Linked DNA regions of Homo sapiens. Each later gene encodes a partner of the first gene's protein in a complex. Each region holds a gene or a part of one and is shown in the gene's direction. Other genes may lie near its edges.

Region 1 (9,119 bases):
CTAATAGTGACAGTGGGGTGTTAAAGTCTCCCATTATTATTGTGTGGGAGTCTAAGTCTCTTTGTAGGTCTCTAAGGACTTGCTTTATGAATCTGGGTGCTCCTGTATTGGGTGCATATATATTTAGGATAGTTAGCTCTTCTTGTTGAATTGATCCCTTTACCATTATGTAATGCCCTTCTTTGTCTCTTTTGATCTTTGTTGGTTTAAAGTCTATTTTATCAGAGACTAGGATTGCAATGCCTGCTTTCTTTTGCTTTCCATTTGCTTGGTATATCTTCCTCCATCCCTTTATTTTGAGCCTATGTGTGTCTTTGCACGTGAGATGGGTCTCCTGAATACAGCACATTGATGGGTCTTTACTCTTTATCCAATTTGCCAGTCTGTGTCTTTTAATTGGAGCATTTAGCCCATTTACGTTTAAGGTGTAATATTGGTATGTGTGAATTTGATCCTGTCATTATGATGTTAGCTGGTCATTTTGCCCATTAGTTGATGCAGTTTCTTCCTAGCATTGATGATCTTTACAATTTGGCATGTTTTTGCAGTGGCTGGTACTGGTTGTTCCTTCCCATGTTTAGTGCTTCCTTCAGGAGCTTATGTAAGGCAGGCCTGGTGGTGTCAAAATCTCTCAACCTTTGCTTGTCTGTAAAGGATTTTATTTCTCCTTCACTTATGAAGCTTAGTTTGGCTGGATATGAAATTCTGGCTTGAAAATTCTTTTCTTTAAGAATGTTGAATATTGGCCCCCACTCTCTTCTGGCTGTAGAGTTCCTGCCAAGAAATCTGCTGTTAGTCTGATGGGCTTCCCTTTGTGGGTAACCCAACCTTTCTCTCTGGCTGCCCTGAATATTTTTTCCTTCAGTTTAACCTTGGTGAATCTGACAATTATGTGTCTTGGGGTTCCTCTTCTCAAGGAGTATCTTTGTTTTGTTCTCTGTATTTCCTGAATTTGAATGTTGGCCTGCCTTGCTAGGTTGGGGAAGTTCTCCTGGATAATATCCTGAAGAGTGTCTTCCAACTTGGTTCCATTTTCCCCATCACTTTCAGGTACACCAATCAAACATAGATTTGGTCTTTTCACATAGTCCCATATTTCTTGGAGGCTTTGCTCATTTCTTTTTAGTCTTTTTTCTCTAACCTTGTCGTCTCGCTTTATTTCATTAATTTGATCTTCAATTACTGATACCCTTTCTTCCACTTGACCAAATCGGCTACTGAAGCTTGTGCATGCATCACATAGTTCTTGTGCCATGTCTTTTAGCTCCATCAGGTCATTTAAGGTCTTCTCTACACTGTTTATTCTAGTTAGCCATTTGTCTAATCTTTTTTCAAGGTTTTTAGCTTCCTTCCGACGGGTTCGAACATCCTCCTTTAGCTCAGAGAAGTTTGTTATTACCGACCTTCTGAAGCGTACTTCTGTCAGTTTGTCAAAGTCATTCTCCATCCAGCTTTGTTCTGTTGCTGGTGAGGAGCTGCATTCCTTTGGAAGAGAGGAGGCACTCTGGTTTTTAGAATTTTCAGCTTTTCTGCTCTGGTTTCTCCCCATCTTTATGGTTTTACCTACCTTTGGTCTTTGATGTTGGTGACCTACAGATGGGGTTTTGATGTGGATGGGGTTTTGATGTGGATGTCCTTTTTGTTGATGTTGATGCTATTCCTTTCTATTTGTTAGTTTTCCTTCTAACAGGTCCCTCAGCTGCAGGTCTGTTGGAGTTTGCTAGAGGTCCACTCCAGACGCTGTTTTCCTGGATATTACCAGCGGAGGTTGTAGAACAGCAAATATTGCTGCCTGATCCTTCCTCTGGAAGCTTCGTCCCAGAGGGGCGCCCACCTGTATGAGGTGTCTGTCGGCCCCTACTGGGAGGTGTCTCCCAGTTAGGCTACACAGGGTCAGGGATCCACTTGAGGAGGCAGTCTATCCATTCTCTGAGCTCAAACGCTGTGCTGGGAGAACCACTGCTCTCTTCAGAGCTGTCAGACAGGGATGTTTAACTCTGCAGAAGTTTCTGGTGCCTTTTGTTCAGCTATGCCCTGCTGCCAGAGGTGGAGTCAACAGAGGCAGCAGGCCTTGCTGAACTGCGGTGGGCTCCACCCAGTTGGAGCTTCCCCGGCTGCTTTGTTTTCCTACTCAAGCCTCAGCAATGGCAGACACCCCTCCCCCTGCCAGCCTGCTGCCTGGCAGGTTGATCTCAGCTGTGCTAGCAGTGAGCAAGGCTCTGTAGGCGTGGGACCCACCGAGCCAGGCGTGGGATGTAATCTGGTGTGCCGTTTGCTAAGACCATTGGAAAAGCGCAGTGTTTAGGTGGAGGTGTCCCATTTTTCCAGGTACAGTCTGTCACGGCTTCCCTTGGCTAGGAAAGGGAAATCCCCCAACCCCTTGCGCTTCCTGGGTGAGGTGATGCCCCACCCTGCTTCAGCTTGCCCTCCATGGGCTGCACCCACTGTCCAACCAGTCCCAATGAGATGAACCAGGTATCTCAGTTGGAAATGCAGAAATCACCTGCCTTCTGCGTTGATTATGCTGGGAGCTGCAGACCGGAGCTGTTCCTACTCGGCCATCTTGGAACAGACCTGCACAAAGTAAAATTTTTATATCAACTTTTGCATAGACTGTTCAGGTTCATGTTACTTTTCTTTGCCATTGTTCTGTTGTAGGTATATGCCAATCTAACATCTTGTCAAGCTCTTGGAAATATGTGTGTGATGAACATGAATTCTTACGACTTTGCCACATTTGATGCATGTGGACTATTTCAGTTTATCTTTGAAAATACTGCTGGACTGAGCACTGTTCATTCTATTTCATTTTGGTAAGGATATTTTGATTGATGAAATGTTATTTTGACTGAATTCAGTGCAGTTATTAATATATTCACAAATACTAATAATAAGAAATATTTATTCTCCATTATTAAAACAGTTGTAACTGTTTATAGGAGACAGAATCTTCCTTGGCTGTTTTATGGAGACCAGTTAGGATTAGCACCTCAAGTGCTCAGTTCTACCTCTCTTCCTACAAATTTCAGTTTTAAAGGAGAAAACCAGGTAAAAGTGTCTAATATCATTAGAGGATAACTACATTTTGATTTATAATTTTAAAAGGTAATAAAGTTACAATTCTTGCCTTTTTAGGTTGTTGGTACAAACTCAGTTACTAAACTAAATATAAATGTCAACAACTCATAAGAACTAAATAGTATAGAGTTTAGCTATCTTACTGAATATGTGGATACTTCTGGATTGTGTGGTTATGGCAAGAAGTTGTACTTGTAGGGTTGGGAAGAGCAGTTTTCATCACCAAATGCAAAAAATCTCTGTCCTGTTTTTTCCACACCTTAAAGAAGTGCTTCCAAAGATTGATTGGGGCTCTGTGACATTGCTCAGCACTTCACAGGGCCAAATTCCTACCTGTAACTTTTTGACCTTCCAGAATGAGGAGATACTATTCTCCCACACTGCCTCCTATTTAACAGGTTCAAAAGGAGGCTATCTGTCACTAGTGCTGCCTCTCAATTCTAGAATAATAATTTTCATGCAAAAAACCAGTCTAATTCTTTCAGGTCTATTTAGTCATAGAAATAGATTAATTGAACCTCAAAATAAAGATAATTGAATGTAATTTTTCAACAAAAAAGATCAGTCAACAATGAAAATTTCTTTATAGGATATTGTATTACTTTCAGAGTATTTGACCTGATTTTGCTCGTTTTCTTTAATCAGAATACAAAACTGAAGTTTGTTGCTGCTTCCTATGATATAAGAGGAAATTTTCTCAAGTGGCAAACTTTAGAAGGAGGTGTTTTACAGGTAAGCATGATTCTAGTTAAAGAATTAATAACATGCATTATTTTTGCCTGAGACAAAGCCAAGAGGAAAAGATTATTGTATGAATAAAGCATCAGTTACATACTACAGTTGATTTTTTTTCTGATGCTTTAAATTAGACTTTCTTAAGTTTTTTGTTTGTTTGTTTGTTTGTTTGTTTTTTCTTTTTTTTTTGAGATGGAGTCTCGCTTTCTTAACCAGGCTGGAGTGCAGTGGCGCGATCTCAGCTCACTACAAGCTCCGCCTTGCGGGTTCACGCCATTCTCCTGCTTCAGCTGGGAGCTGGAACTACAGGCGACTGCCACCACGTCCAGCTAATTTTTATGTACTTTTAGTAGAGACGGGATTTCACCATGTTAGCCAGGATGGTCTTGATCTCCTGACCTCGTGATCCGCCCTTCTTGGCCTCCCAAAGCGCTGGGATTGCAGGCATGAGCCACCATGCCTGGCTAAGTTTTATTTCTTTAAAGTTATGACTTTCATTTATAACAGATGTTCCCTTAACTTTTCATATCCTTGATACATTAAATAAGTATTATGTAGAGCATATATCCATGTTCGGGTTTGAGAACTCTTGAGTATAAGAATAGAAAACATTTGTGAGATTTATCTGTTGTATTATTTTGCTGCAGCTTTGTCCAGACACAGAGACAAGGCTAAATGCTGCTTATTCATTTGGAACAACCTACCAACAAAATGTAAGTTTGAACGATATTAGTCTATATTTTAGCTTTATTTTTCAAAATATCATGTCAGCAGTAATTGGAATAATACTTAAATTTTTGAGATTGGAAATTTTTTATTCTTGGTTTTTTTTTTTTTTTTTTTGAGATGGAGTTTTGCTCTTGTTGCCCAGGCTGGAGTGCAGTGGTGCAATCTCAGTTCACCACAACCTCCGCCTCCCAGGTTCAAGTGATTCTCCTGCCTCAGCCTCCCGAGTAGCTGGAATTACAGACATGTGCCACCACGCCCAGCTAATTTTTTGTATTTTTAGTAAAGACAGGGTTTCTCCATGTTGATCAGGCTGATCTTGAACTCCCCACCTCAGATGATCTGCCCTCCTCAGCCTCCCGAAGTGCTGAGATTACAGGCATGAGCCACCGTGCCTGGCCGGAAATGTTTTTAATAGTGAAGAATAATTTCACTATTTAATATAATTTTTTATTACCTGGGTACATAAAAGCTTAATTTAAGTGGCATAAACAGAGCACCTTGTTATCTATAGAGTTTTTTGTTTTTTGAGACAGAGTCTCGCTCTGTTGCCCAGGCTGGAGTGCAGTGGTGCAATCTCAGCTCACTGCAATCTCTTGCCTCCTGGGTTCAAGCAATTCTCGTGCCTCAACCACCTGAGTAGCTGGGACAACAGGCATGTACCACCACACCCAGCTAATTCTTGTGTTTTGCATAGAGATGGGGTTTTGCTGTGTTGACCACGCTTGTCTCAAACTCCTGACCTCAACTGATCCACCAGCCTTGGCCTCCCAAAGTGCTGGGATTACAGGTGTGAGCCACCTCGTCCGGCCTAGAGTCTTAAACATCATATAATATTACATCTTCATAATAAATTGTTTATCTGCTTCTAGGCTTATAGGTCTTAAAAAGTAATGCTTACTTCTGAGCATTTTGAAATAAAGTAAAAATACTACTTTTTTTAAATGACTAATAAAAAGTTACTCCCTTCTTCTACCCGCTCATAACAAATAAAAATAATTCCTTCATCTTCTTCCATTCTTTTCTTTCTCCTTCCTTCTCTGACTTTCCTTACTTTGATACCTATTTTGAAATTACATTATTTTACTAAGGAATATTATGAGCCATTCAATACTTGAAAAACATGCATGTATTAGTCCGTTCTCACGCTGCTAATAAAAACACATCCGAGACTGGGTAATTTACAAAGGAAATAGGTTTAATTGACTCACAGTTCACTATGGCTGAGGAGGCCTCAGGAAACTTACAATCATGGTGGAAGGGAAGCAAACATGTCCTTTTTCACGTGGTGACAGGAAGAGAAGTACTGAGCAAAAGGGGGAGAAGCCCCTCATAAAACCATCAATCTCATGAGAACTCACTCACTATCATGAGAACAGCATGAGGGTAACTGCCCCTATGATTCAATTACCTCCCTCCGGGTCCTTCCCATGACACATGGGGATTATGGGAACTACAGTTCAAGATGAGATTTGGGTGGGGACACAGCCAAACCATATCAATTCATTAGTCTGTAAAAGTACATCTTGATAAAGTTCCACGCACAACCATAGAACAAAACCATAACAAAAAATACCATTATGGAAAGTAGATTGGAAGAATCTACTAACAGTGGTTACCTCTGGATAGTGGGGTTAGAAATTATTTTTTTCTTTTTTATAATTTCCAAATTTTCTACCATGAACATGAATTTACTTCTTTTGTCAGAAATGATTTACACGTTGTTGTTGCTGTTGTTGTTAAAATAAATGTTATTGTGCTTCTAACATAGGCCAGAAAGATCAACACTTATGTAATGCCTATCTGTGTGCTCAGCATTTTATCGTTATTATCCCATTTGATTCATAAAATAACTATATGAGATACATAGTATCTGTGCTTCACAGATGAGGAAATTATGCCGTGTAATTAGGTAATTTACTCAAAGACTTGTGTCACATAAACTGTGGAGCCAATGTTCTATCATCAGGTTTAAAAAGCATTTTTATTTCTTTGAACCTGGCTAACTCTCAAGTCCTTCATAGACTAGTGGGCAAAACAGTTATATAGACAAAGAATTGCAAAGAATGTGATAAGTGTCATTCTATAGGTATGTACAAGGTACTGATTCCTGGGGAAGTATAGAAAGGCTTCACAAAGTAAGTGATACTTGGATTTGTATAATGAATATGAGTTTTCCAGAAGAACACAGTGGGGAAGGAAATATCAGACAGAAATCACATTTGTAATGACAGAGAGACATACAGTAGTATGGCATATTTAGAAACTACAAGTAGATTAGTATGAATGGACCACCATAGACTGATAGGGAGTAATGAGAGATAAGCCTGGCTTGGTTAATGGAAGCCAGATCATATACATCATTGTACAGCAGGAGAAAAAATTGGGAATTTATCCCGTAGGACAGTAGTTTTAAACCTTTTCACTGATGTACCCTTAATATTGAGAATGAAGGTATACCTCCTTCATCTGAGTTGAAGCTCAAGAAGTTCTCAAAATTCTCAAAGCAGTACTTTACTGTTAGTGGTTTTGGTCCTTATAAAATAATCATAGTATTCATGTTTTGGAAGACAAATGAAAATGCATATAAACAAGGTAGTATAAAGACATTTTGCAAAACTAGAAAAACACTCTGAAGATAATAAATATGCTTGCTAATTTTCAATTGTGATCTTTTATTTTATTTTTTACTTTTTAGTACTTTAAGTTGCTGTTTTATGTGCTTTTATTTTTAATTTTACTTTTCAGTGTGAGATTCCTATCTCTAAGATCTTAATTGACTTTCCCACTCCTATATTTTATGATGTGTACCTTGAATATACTGATGAAAATCAACATCAATATATTTTGGCTGTGCCTGTGTTAAACCTAAATCTTCAACATAATAAGATATTTGTGAACCAAGGTAAGACATCCATACATACCACTCTTTTCCCTGAGCAGAAATCAACAAATAAGTTAACCTACATGATAATTTAATAAACCACTGATTATAAGAAAGGTCATGAATTCTCTCTTATGTGGTTCTATACAGTGTGCCAAAAAATGAAACAATAAATTGCTGGTGGACTTAGAAACTGTTGCTAATTTTATTGCCAGACATATTGTTAAGAAATTATACTGTTGCTGAGGGTATATCCTGAGAAACATTAGTAGAACCGTAAATTGGGGCTTTTTCGTCAAGCTGTCCCGAATATGCTTTTTTGGACAAATTAGTTTCTTTTGTTGTTATTCATGTTATAAAATTCTGCTTTTTCAGGTAATTTGCAGGGGAAAGCCTTCCAAATTTATGAAAAGTTCAATCAGAAGACATTCAAGTCCAAGGCACGGTGGCTCACGCCTATAATCGCAGCACTTTGGGAGGCCAAGACGAGAGAATTGCTTGAGCCTAGAAATTGAAGACCAACCTAGGCAACATAATTAGAACTGGTTGCTACAAAAAAAAATTTAGCTTGGTGTGATGGTGCACCCTTGTAGTCCCAGCTACTCTGGAGGCTGAGGTGGGAGGATCACTTGAGCCCAGGAGGTTGAGAATGCATGCAGTGAGCCATGATCATGCTATTGCACTATAGCCTGGTCAACAGAGTGAGACCCTGTCTAAAAAAAACAAAAGAAGACATTCACATGAGTTAGAGAACGCCATTGTCAGGTGTTTCTTATACTAGTAGCTTTTTGCAGCCATCTTATCTAAAACAATAATTTCATGTTTTAAATTTGTGCAGTAAACTTTTTTCTTTTTATAATAAAAGACAGCAACTCTGGAAAGTGGCTTCTAACTCGGCGCATTTTCTTAGTGGATGCAGTAAGTGGACGAGAAAATGACTTAGGAACTCAGCCAAGAGTAATTCGAGTTGCTACTCAAATATCACTGAGGTAAACAAATGTCTAATGATATTATTTATGGGAAAATATCATAATGGAAGTGTTTGCCAGTCATTAGTAGATGAAAACAATAAGGACAACTGAATTGGAACAGTTGGTCGGGTTATTTTAGGTGTATGTGTAGATTGGCATAGACCAGTAAAAGTGAATAGCCAAGGGGGAAAACTATAACAGAAGAGTGTGAGGAGTTAGGTCAAAATGCACATTATAGGTCCCACTCTAGACCTGCTGAATTAGAATGGGTTGCGAATAGCTAAGTAAATACCAGTGAGCTGAAATTGGTGTTTCAGGAAGAGCTTGCCAGATGATTGTTAATGTTTAGGACTCCCCTGTCCTCATTTCTTTCAGTGGCTTTTGTTCTAGGTTTACCCAGATTAATTTTCAACACCTCCCTCTTCCTAGGATAATCTCATTATGATCCTACGTTAGGATAGTACCTCGCCACTTAAATTTCTCTTTCTTTTCCAGTGTGAGATCTCTAAAATCTTAGTGACTTTCCCACTATAATATTTTATGATGTGTACCTTGAATACACTGATGAAAATCAACACCATCATCTCACAGTAGTTTGGTACTTTGAAGTACTTCAATATACTTATTTTTCAGTTATTTCATTTTGATTCTCATAATCTTATAAACAGTGCAGAAACTTTGTTATTTATCATGCTGAAATCCAAATGTACTGTCTTTTCAGCATT
Region 2 (9,278 bases), on another chromosome or scaffold:
TTATGCCCCAGTTCCAAATGCATATGTTGAAGTTCTAACCTTAAAGTACCTCAGAATGTGCCTGTATTTGAAGACAGAGTCTCTAAAGAGGTAATTAAGTTAAAAGGAGGTCATTAGGGTGAGCCCTAATCCAATATGACTCTGTCCTTATAAGAAGAGATTAAGATACGGGCAGGTACAGAGGGAAGTGCAGGTGAAGACACAGGGAGACAACAACCATCTACAAGCCAACAAGAGAGTCCTTAGAAGAAACCAACCCTGCAGACATCTTTATCTCAGTCTTCTAGCCCCCAGAATTGTGAGAATATAAATTTCTGTGGTACTTTGTTATGGCTGCCCCAGCAAACTAATACAAGCAAACTAATACAGAAAACTAATACAAGCAGTAAAGCCAACATCTGTTCTGATTGGTAAATGCACATCCTGTAAGGGATTTAAATATTTTGCATATCAGTCACATTTAGGCATTATATTATTCAAGAAATTCACTATTCATTATGTATTAAATGTGTCGAATACCCTAAATCTATTTTATTCCTAAACGGTTCAATTTATATACATACATATATATATACACACACACACACACATACACATATATGTGTATATATATTTATACATATATGTGTGTATATATACATATATGTGTGTATATATATACATATATGTGGATATATATTTATACATATATGTGTGTATATATGTTTATACATATATGTGTGTGTATATATATATATATACACACAATTTTTTTCATGGATACTCAGCCAATTTTTAGAATTATTACCATACTACCACTCTTAATTGTTTGCCTCTCCTAGGATAGCGGAGTGCCCTTGGTCTTGCACTCTCGACTAATGAGAGCTAAAGCAACATATCTGCTTTATTCAGTTTGAATGGGGCTCATTAATATGTTTAGTATATACTCAACTGCCTGCTGAACATCCCACTCCATACATCCCATTGCAACTAAACATCTTTTCCTCCATGCTTGCTCTTCCTGATTTTTTGTCGTTAACTGATTAGCCATTCTCCACCCAGTTACCTGAGCCAGAAACCTCGGCACCTTTCAAACTTCTTTTATAGTTTTAAAATAATTATAAACTTACAGAAAAATTGCAAGAATAGTATAAAGAACTTCTGCTTTCGCCCAAATTCCCTGTTAACATTTGCTTTATCATTTTCTTTATGTATATTATTTATGTTTATATTTATTTACAGTATTTATGTATACTTTTTTCCTGAACCATTTGAATAGGTTGCAGATATGAAGCCTCATCACCTTTAATACTTCAATATGTATTTTCTAAAACCAAAAATATCTATGTCACTATAGTCATCAAAATCAGGAAATTAATATTGTTAAAATACTACCATCTAATCCAGAGACCCCATTCAAATTGTTAGTTGTCCCAATAATATCCTTATAGCAAAAGGATTCAATTCAGAATCATGTATTCCACTTAATTGTCATGTATCTTAATTCTCCTTCAATCTAAAAACGTTCTTTAGTTGTTCCTTTGTCTTTCATGACCTTGATCTTTGAAGAGTACAGGTCTATTATTTTGTAGAATGTCCCTCAATTTGGGACATTTGGGTTGTCTGATTTTTTCCTCACGATTGATTCGGATTACACATTTTTGGCAGGAATGTCACAGAAGTGTATTCTAAGTGCCTCTAACCAGGACATACACGATGCTGATTTGTCTCATGACTGCTGATGGTAACTTCGCTCACCAGTGCCAGATTTCTACACTGTCAAGTTTTCTAATTTTTCTCTGTGTAATTAATAAGTATTTGCTGGAGAGATACTTTGAGACTATATAAATATTATATGTCTCTTAATACTCTCACCCTCTAGTTTTAGCATACACTGATGATTCTAGTCTGAATCAACTGTTACTATCATGACTGCCAAATAATGATGTTTCTACATATAACACTGTCTACATTCATTACATTTAGTTGGCATTTTTATGTAAGGCAGAGCTTTTCTTTATCCTGATTTTTCAAAAAAATCATTTATTCATTTTAGTATGGGCTCAAATATTCCTATTTTATTTAGCGGACTATAATCCATTAACATTATATTGGTGCTCAGATTGACCCAGATGTGGCCAGTGGTGGCTCCTTCAAGCTGGCTTCTGTGACCTTTTGATATGTTTCTTCATTCTGTATTAACTTCCTTAACTTCTGGTGCAACAAGAATTTTCCAGGCTCCTGTTCTAAAATCAACCATTTCTCCAAGGGACCCAGTTACTTTTAGTGAATAATACTGTTCAGAAACCAAGATCTAGGCACATGTGCTCATTGCTTCTAGTATACCATTACTCTGAAACCCTTTCAGCAGATAGAGCTAGGAAGAGCATAATAGATAGATACGCACACACATACAGACATACTTTCCTCTATATTTATTTTTACATATGTTTATGTATATATTGAAAACTATGAGTTGACACTGACATATTCAATTCCAATTCAACATCACCACAAAGGTCACTGTGGAATTCTTCCTCTCTCAATTTGTAACGTCCTTCTCTGTCAGTGAGAAACCTGGCTCCCATTAGACCCAACATATTTATTTCCTCACTCCCCTTTCATGCTTGCCACCTCTTTACTTGCCAAGGGGAAGGCAAAACAGCTGGTCATCGTTTTTTATTATTTCTTATCATTCACTCTTCCATCCAATCAATCACTAAGTCCTGACATTTTTACCTCCTAAAAATTTCTCAAATTGGTCCATTTCTCTCCATTCTGATTTTTCTTAGCCTTGACCATGCCACCTTTGTCTCTTACATGGCTTACAGCAACGGCATCTTAAATGGTATTCCCAGATCTAGATTTGCTTCCTTCCTGTCTGTTCTCCACCCTGCAGCCAGAGTTATCTTTATGATATTAAAATTTGAAAATTTCACTCCATAAAATTCTATAGTGGTATTCCACTGACCAATACTGTCTGGGTCTCTTCATAGCTTGTTTAACTCTCTTGTTTTGTCTCCTCCAAAAGCCCCTAGTCTCATTCTCTACCTTTTAGTTAGCCAACTTGAACTTTTTTTTTTTTTCTTCCAGTTCTTGTATTATACCAAACTTTCTTGTAGTGAACACTATACGCCACCTTCTTCTACCTGGAAACCCTTCCTAACCTGGACAACTCTACACATTATTTTGGTCTTTACTTAAATGTCACTTCTGCTATGAAATATTCCCTGACCTCCCCCACCCCACTGCACCTCTGCATGCTACTGTAAATGGAGAAGCAAGAGATGATAACAGGGTTACACATCCGCTAGTCTGGGGATTGTATTCTGAAACTAACACCCTACTAAGAATGAGCAGTCAGAGTTATAACTTCCCTTTGGAAAAGCAGGTACTTAAATGCAGTTGTGAGGACAGATGAAAAGTACATAAAACACCTACAATGCATACCTCCTAGAAGGAGCTCAATATATGTTATCCATTATTCATTCAACAAATGTTCATGAAATGCCAACTATTTCATAGACACTGTGGTAGATGCTGGGGATAGAGAAAATACAAAGTAAACTATGAAACTATAGAATGAGCATCCAAAGTCTAATATATAGAATGAGTATCCGAAGTCTAATAGGGAGTAGGAGTGTTTGAAGGAGTCAGTCAACCTGCTTAAGATTCAAAGGATGGACAACATTTGGCTGTGATGCAGGAGTGTAAAAGGAGGAATTTTCAGGAAGAGAGGACAATATGAGTAAGGACGGGGCGTGAAAGGCTATGGATTGTTTTTCATGGTACACATAATTCAATGTTGCATAAAACTGCATGGTACACATGATTCAATATTGCATAAAATTGGAACAAGAAGCTAACGAGAGATGAAACTAGTCAGGGAGATGGAGAATCTTGTATCCTAGGCAAAGTAATCATTTTCTCTTACAGATTGCCTTTCAAAAATTTTCAGCAGGAGAGTGCCATTATCCGATTTACATTTTTAGTCAGGTCATTCTGATAGCAGTGTGGAGAATTTAAGAGTCAAACTGGAGTCAGAGAACTGGTAAAGGGCCCATCTGAGGAAGTTAAAAAGAGAGAATGGATATGCTTTGGCATAAGATGCATTTAGGATACTCTACTGTTCTTACTAAAACACTGGGAGGATTGTGGTGGCTTACAGCAAGATAGAAATCTAGGAGAGTATGTTTAGAACGGAAAGTTGAACAGCTCAGTTCGGTACGCATTGGATTAGTAATCTTTCTCGTTGCTTCCTCACAGGATTTAGGGAAGCACAAGACATATAGTTTGTAAGGTGTGGCAATGTCAGTAAGAATGGAAAAGCTGGCCTCCATAAACTCTTACTGTACAAATGAAGCAACAGCTTACAGCGGGTGGCTGTAGGTACAGGAAATGGCCTGTATTCACGAGTGTATTCACGAGTCCACGAGTAGCGCATCTAGTATTTTTCCAGCCCTGGTGACTCAGAGCTGAAGATGGCGCCTGTGGCAGAAATCAGAAAAGTGGGAGGGAGCATTAGGTGTAGAAAAGGATGGCGTTTTAACTTTTGTTTTGTTTTTCACACACAGGGAGATAGCTCTAAAGGAACAGTGGATAATTTTTTCTTAAAATTTTGTCTGTAGTACAACTTCATTTTCCACGCCTTAAAACCATGTTTTCTTTTGTGGGCGCGATCGCGTGGGGAGTGACAAATCTGTTTCTTTGCCTCATTCATTCATTTTCTTATTCTGGGCGGCTTCCATGACAGCCTCCCCAGTTTTCCTTTGCCCAGTCAGTTTTTCCCTGCGCTAGCTACAATTCTAAGGCGAAAAGAGCATTTTCGGAGGTGAGGGCGGGGAAAACTCAAGACTCTGTAGGGGCACCCGCGCATTTCCGGGTCCCTTACCGCTCCGAGTGGAGGAGACTGTTCCCGCTCGCGTGGCCGGGGAGGCGGGAGCCCCCTAAGTTCCCTGAAGCTCGCGCCCGCCTGCGGCCTGAGGGCCCCCGGGCAGGCGCCGCACGGCCCCTCCTCCTGGAAGAAGGCGGTGGAGGCGCGGGGACGGGGCCGCGGTCTTCGCCTAGAGCGCGGGACGCATCGGTCGCCATGGGAACGGCGGCGTAGGCAGGCGCTGACGTCAGCAGGCGGCGCGCTGTCCGCACTGCGGCACAGAGCCGCGGCTTGCTTTCAGGACACGGGTCGCTGGCGGGTTAGGTGGCTGCGTGGCCGCCTCACTTCGCGCACGCGCCGCTAGGCTGGGGGAGTTGATTTGCACTGCTCCGGGTGTCGGCTCCGGCGGGACGGGCGGTTCTGCGTACCCCTCTCCGTGAGTACATCATGGGTGCGCTGGTGGCGGGAGCGCGGGCCGGGGTGCTCGGCCTGCCCGGCCCTCTCCTGGGCGGCGTGTCGGGGCTGCTGGAGTCCGAGAGCGCGGAGGCTGATAGCGTAGTGACCGACGAGCGTGGGCCGGGTGTCCCGGGGGAATGCGATTTCTGAGAGTCCTCACCGTACTTTTGCGCTTCTTTCACTGGTCTCCGTGTCCCCGGAGAGTTGAGCATGGTGCTCTGATAGAGAATTCAATCTTTGCCTTTCCTACTCCCGATTCTTATTTAAATGCTTTTAAATCAGATGTGTACTGAGTGTGTTTATTTCCTTTTAGAGTGTCAACCTGGGGCTGAATCTTCAACCTGTCAAAGCCTTCTTAATTATGTCTGAGAAAAGGTGATCAATTTGTTATATTTATAAGAGCCAAATTATATTAATAGGGTTGTTTCGAGATGCATAAAAATAGAACAAAAATGTAGACCATTTAAGAATCCTTATCAAAGGTTGTGCTGCGTTTAGCATTCCTGTAAAAACATCTATTGTGAAAATAAAGCTTTCCCCTTTCTTTTGAGAAAGAGATGCCAACGATTTTTTCACCTGTTGCATTAACAGTTGCTGTTACTGCTTGGGCGTTAGGAGGAAGATTGCTTCTTATGAGTACTCTGGGAAATTTTTTAAAGAATGCTTGAAAGAAATTCAAATACCAAAAGTGTTTTTAAACCATACCTAGAATCTTGTTTATGAGGAATAATATTTATGAAGTTAGAATCTTGTTTACTTATGAAGAATCTTGTTGATTTATTCATTGAATTTTGTATACAGGATTTTTGTTTGTCTTTTTTTCCCTTGCGATAACATTTGGTTAAGGAGCGAATTATCAAGCCTCTCAGTTTTTTCTCCCAATGATATTGAGCCACATATTGGCTGATAATCAGGTTGTCTGTAAAATAAAATGAGATGAAATGTAATCCATTTAATTTTCCTGTGTAATATCTCTTAGACGCTCCTGTGAAAGGGTTTGTGAGGGAGAAGTTGTAAAATAATGGAATATATAAGAATCAGAGGTGTCTTTTAAAGTCCTATCTGATTTTTTGCAGAGGTTACTAATCAAATATTAGCCGTTAATTCTATCATGTTTGCTGTAGTACATATTAAGATTTAGAGATGGCTGAGCGCAGTGGGTCACGCCTGTAATCCTAGCACTTTGGGAGGCTAAAGTGGGTGGATCACTTGAGGTCAGGAGTTCAGTATCAGCCTGGCCAATGTTGGTGAAACCCCATCTCTACTAAAAATACAAAAATTAGCTGGGTGTGATGGCCCACACCTGTAGTCCCAGCTACCAGGGAGGCTGAGGCAGGTGAATTGCTTGAACCCAGGAGGCGGAGGCAGCAGTGAGCTGAGATTGTGCCACTGCACTCCAACCTGGGCAACAGAGCGAGACTCTGTCTCCAAAAAAAAAAAATTAGAGATGATTTCTGTACTGTATTTGCTGTGTTATCATTACATAATATTAGTATTTATTAGTTTAGTTGTGTATTAAGCTGTTAATAGTAAATAAGTATATGATTTATATATTTTATTTGTAATTATTTACTTATTTTTAATACAATAATAATGGACATAAAGTAATTTTATTGCAATGTACTGATTACTTTGCTTTTTGGTATTTTCTCTTCTCCTTACAGTACTAAAATAGGTGCCATTTTAAATTCCCAGACAAGGAAAAACCAAGGATTAGAAATTAAGTAGCTTGCCCAAGGCCACACATCAGTAAGTGGTGACACTAGAGCTCAAGCCTGAGTCTTTTTTACTCGCTTTGCTTTTGCTTCTCTTCACTTCGCTTCTCTCTTCTTCTCCTCTCTTTTCTTTCATAGTGGCAGATACATAACTATAAGAGAGCATTGGCTTGGTCCTCCAAAGCTAGCAGTTTGGTGGGAGTTACAGAACATTTTACCAGGGTGAAAATTCAAGGTTGAGGTAGAGGGAGCTACAAAGATTAAGGCACCCTGGAAGCACAGAAGAGAAGTTCTTAAATGCCCTTCAAGGTGAGAATGCTCTCTAGAGAAGATATCATTTGCCTTTAAAGGATAGTGAGGAGTTTGTTAGAGAGACAAAGGAGGAAGCACATTTTTCAGGGGAGGGGATATGTGTGTAATGATACAAAAGCAAGAGAGAACTTGGCACACGTGAAGGCCTGCAGGTAGTTTCACATGTCTGGAACACAGTGGATGTGTGAAGGGGACATTTCATAAATGGCCTTGGACCTCACTGGTAAGGACTTGATATTTTTTTCAATGTGCGATTGGGAGCTAGTGAAGAATTTTAAGCGAAGAAACGACACCATCACATTTGAATTTTAGAAAATTACACTAGTTGCTGTGTAGATGATGATTTTTTTTTTAAGGGAAAGGTGATAGCGGCGTGGAAACAATCTTAAAACAAAAAGCATAATCCTTCCACAGTGTTTTTGTCCCTCAGAGTTACTGTCTCATGTCACTGCCTTTGGGGGTGATGGGAAGACAGTTGGAAGAATTCTGTAAAGAATTGTCTACATGTCCCTTCTACAGGTGTCACCTTCCATTCATTCCTTAGCCCCAGCCTGCTAAGTTTCTGCCCCTCTATAAACAGCTTTGACACACGTGACTTCCTACTTGCAGATTCAGTGGACTTTCTTCAAAACCTCCAGCCCCTTTTGATGCCACACAGTATATAGGCAACATCTCCTTTAAAACTTGGGTTTGCTTCTGTAATGCTTCTATCTCCCAGTTTTTCACCTATCTCCCTGATTTTACTTTATATTGTAGGCTCACAGGATTCTCATTGGCTTTTTATTTTCTTGGAACTATCATATTTATAAATAACTCCCAAATCTTCAGCCTATTGTCTCCCTGCTGGATTAGTAGATTGCCTAACAAACATAATATGATTATATACGTAAACACACACACACGTGACAGTAATAACAGTTGTTGTTTTTGAAGGGCTTGCCATGTGCTAGGCATTGTGCCTAGTATTTTATTTGCATATTCTCATTTAATCTTTATAAAAACACTGTGAGTGATTTACTCTTATTATTGTGAAAGATTAGGAAGTTGATATCCATAGAGGTGAATCTGCTGGCAGATAGAACTGGTATTTGGATCCAAGGATCTGAAAATGGAGCTGATGCTTGTAGCTGCTCAGTGCCCTTCAGATACCCAACTCAACATGACCCATACTAAGCTCAGTGACTGCACCCTAACAACCTGTTACAGTTATAGCTAACATTTATTGTTGCTTCTTCTGTCTACGGTACTGTTCTAAATCATTTAACCCTTACAACAACCCTTTGAGTCGGCACTGGTAGGGTGTTTTTATAGATGAGGAAACAAAAGTCACGCAAGTGACTATGGAAACTAATTCTAGGACATGGATTTTAAACTACTGCCCTGTACTGCATTATATTACAGTGTAATGATACTACTAATCTACTTATTCTAGTTCTAGAAACATGGGAATTATCTCCGATTCTTTCTCCTGCCTCTTCATTAGTTATTTAATCTTTCTAAAATATTACCTCACTCCATCACCTGGAGCGCACTGGTGCAGTCTTGGCTCCCTGCAACCTCCACATTTCAGGTTCAAGCGATTTTCCTGCCTCAGCCTCCCCAGTAGCTGGGATTACAGGCACCCACCACCACGCCTGACTAAGTTTTGTATTTTTGGTAGAGATGGGGTTTTACCATGTTGGCCAGACAGGACACAAACTCCTGACCTCAAGTGATCCACCCGCCTTATCCTTCCCAAGTATTGGGATTACAGACATGAGCCACGGCGCCCAGCAGGCTTTTTTTTGATGAATCATAGTCATAATATAGGTCAGCTTTTTCCTGGCCTATTAGATGACCATCGAGTAGTATAAATATTAAATTTTTATTTGTTTTATGATTTTTCTACTTCCGTGCTCTCAGGTTTCAATTACTCATGCTGTCATTGCACTTGCCTTTGCAGC

Evidence for each region.
Region 2: TMEM67 (region 1) and AHI1 share a complex: the UniProt entries of both Homo sapiens proteins name them as parts of the tectonic-like complex.

Annotation. Positions count from the first base shown.
Region 1 is NC_000008.11:93,777,935-93,787,053, forward strand, and holds part of TMEM67 (meckelin isoform 1 precursor), read left to right. Parts: intron 1-2,658; coding exon 2,659-2,813; intron 2,814-2,939; coding exon 2,940-3,048; intron 3,049-3,723; coding exon 3,724-3,810; intron 3,811-4,460; coding exon 4,461-4,526; intron 4,527-7,287; coding exon 7,288-7,444; intron 7,445-8,288; coding exon 8,289-8,412; intron 8,413-9,119. UniProt on the Homo sapiens protein: Required for ciliary structure and function. Part of the tectonic-like complex which is required for tissue-specific ciliogenesis and may regulate ciliary membrane composition.
Region 2 is NC_000006.12:135,493,593-135,502,870, reverse strand, and holds the start of AHI1 (jouberin), read left to right. Parts: upstream 1-5,130; 5' UTR 5,131-5,288; intron 5,289-5,621; 5' UTR 5,622-5,683; intron 5,684-6,972; 5' UTR 6,973-7,057; intron 7,058-7,161; exon of another isoform or gene 7,162-7,332; intron 7,333-9,278. UniProt on the Homo sapiens protein: Involved in vesicle trafficking and required for ciliogenesis, formation of primary non-motile cilium, and recruitment of RAB8A to the basal body of primary cilium.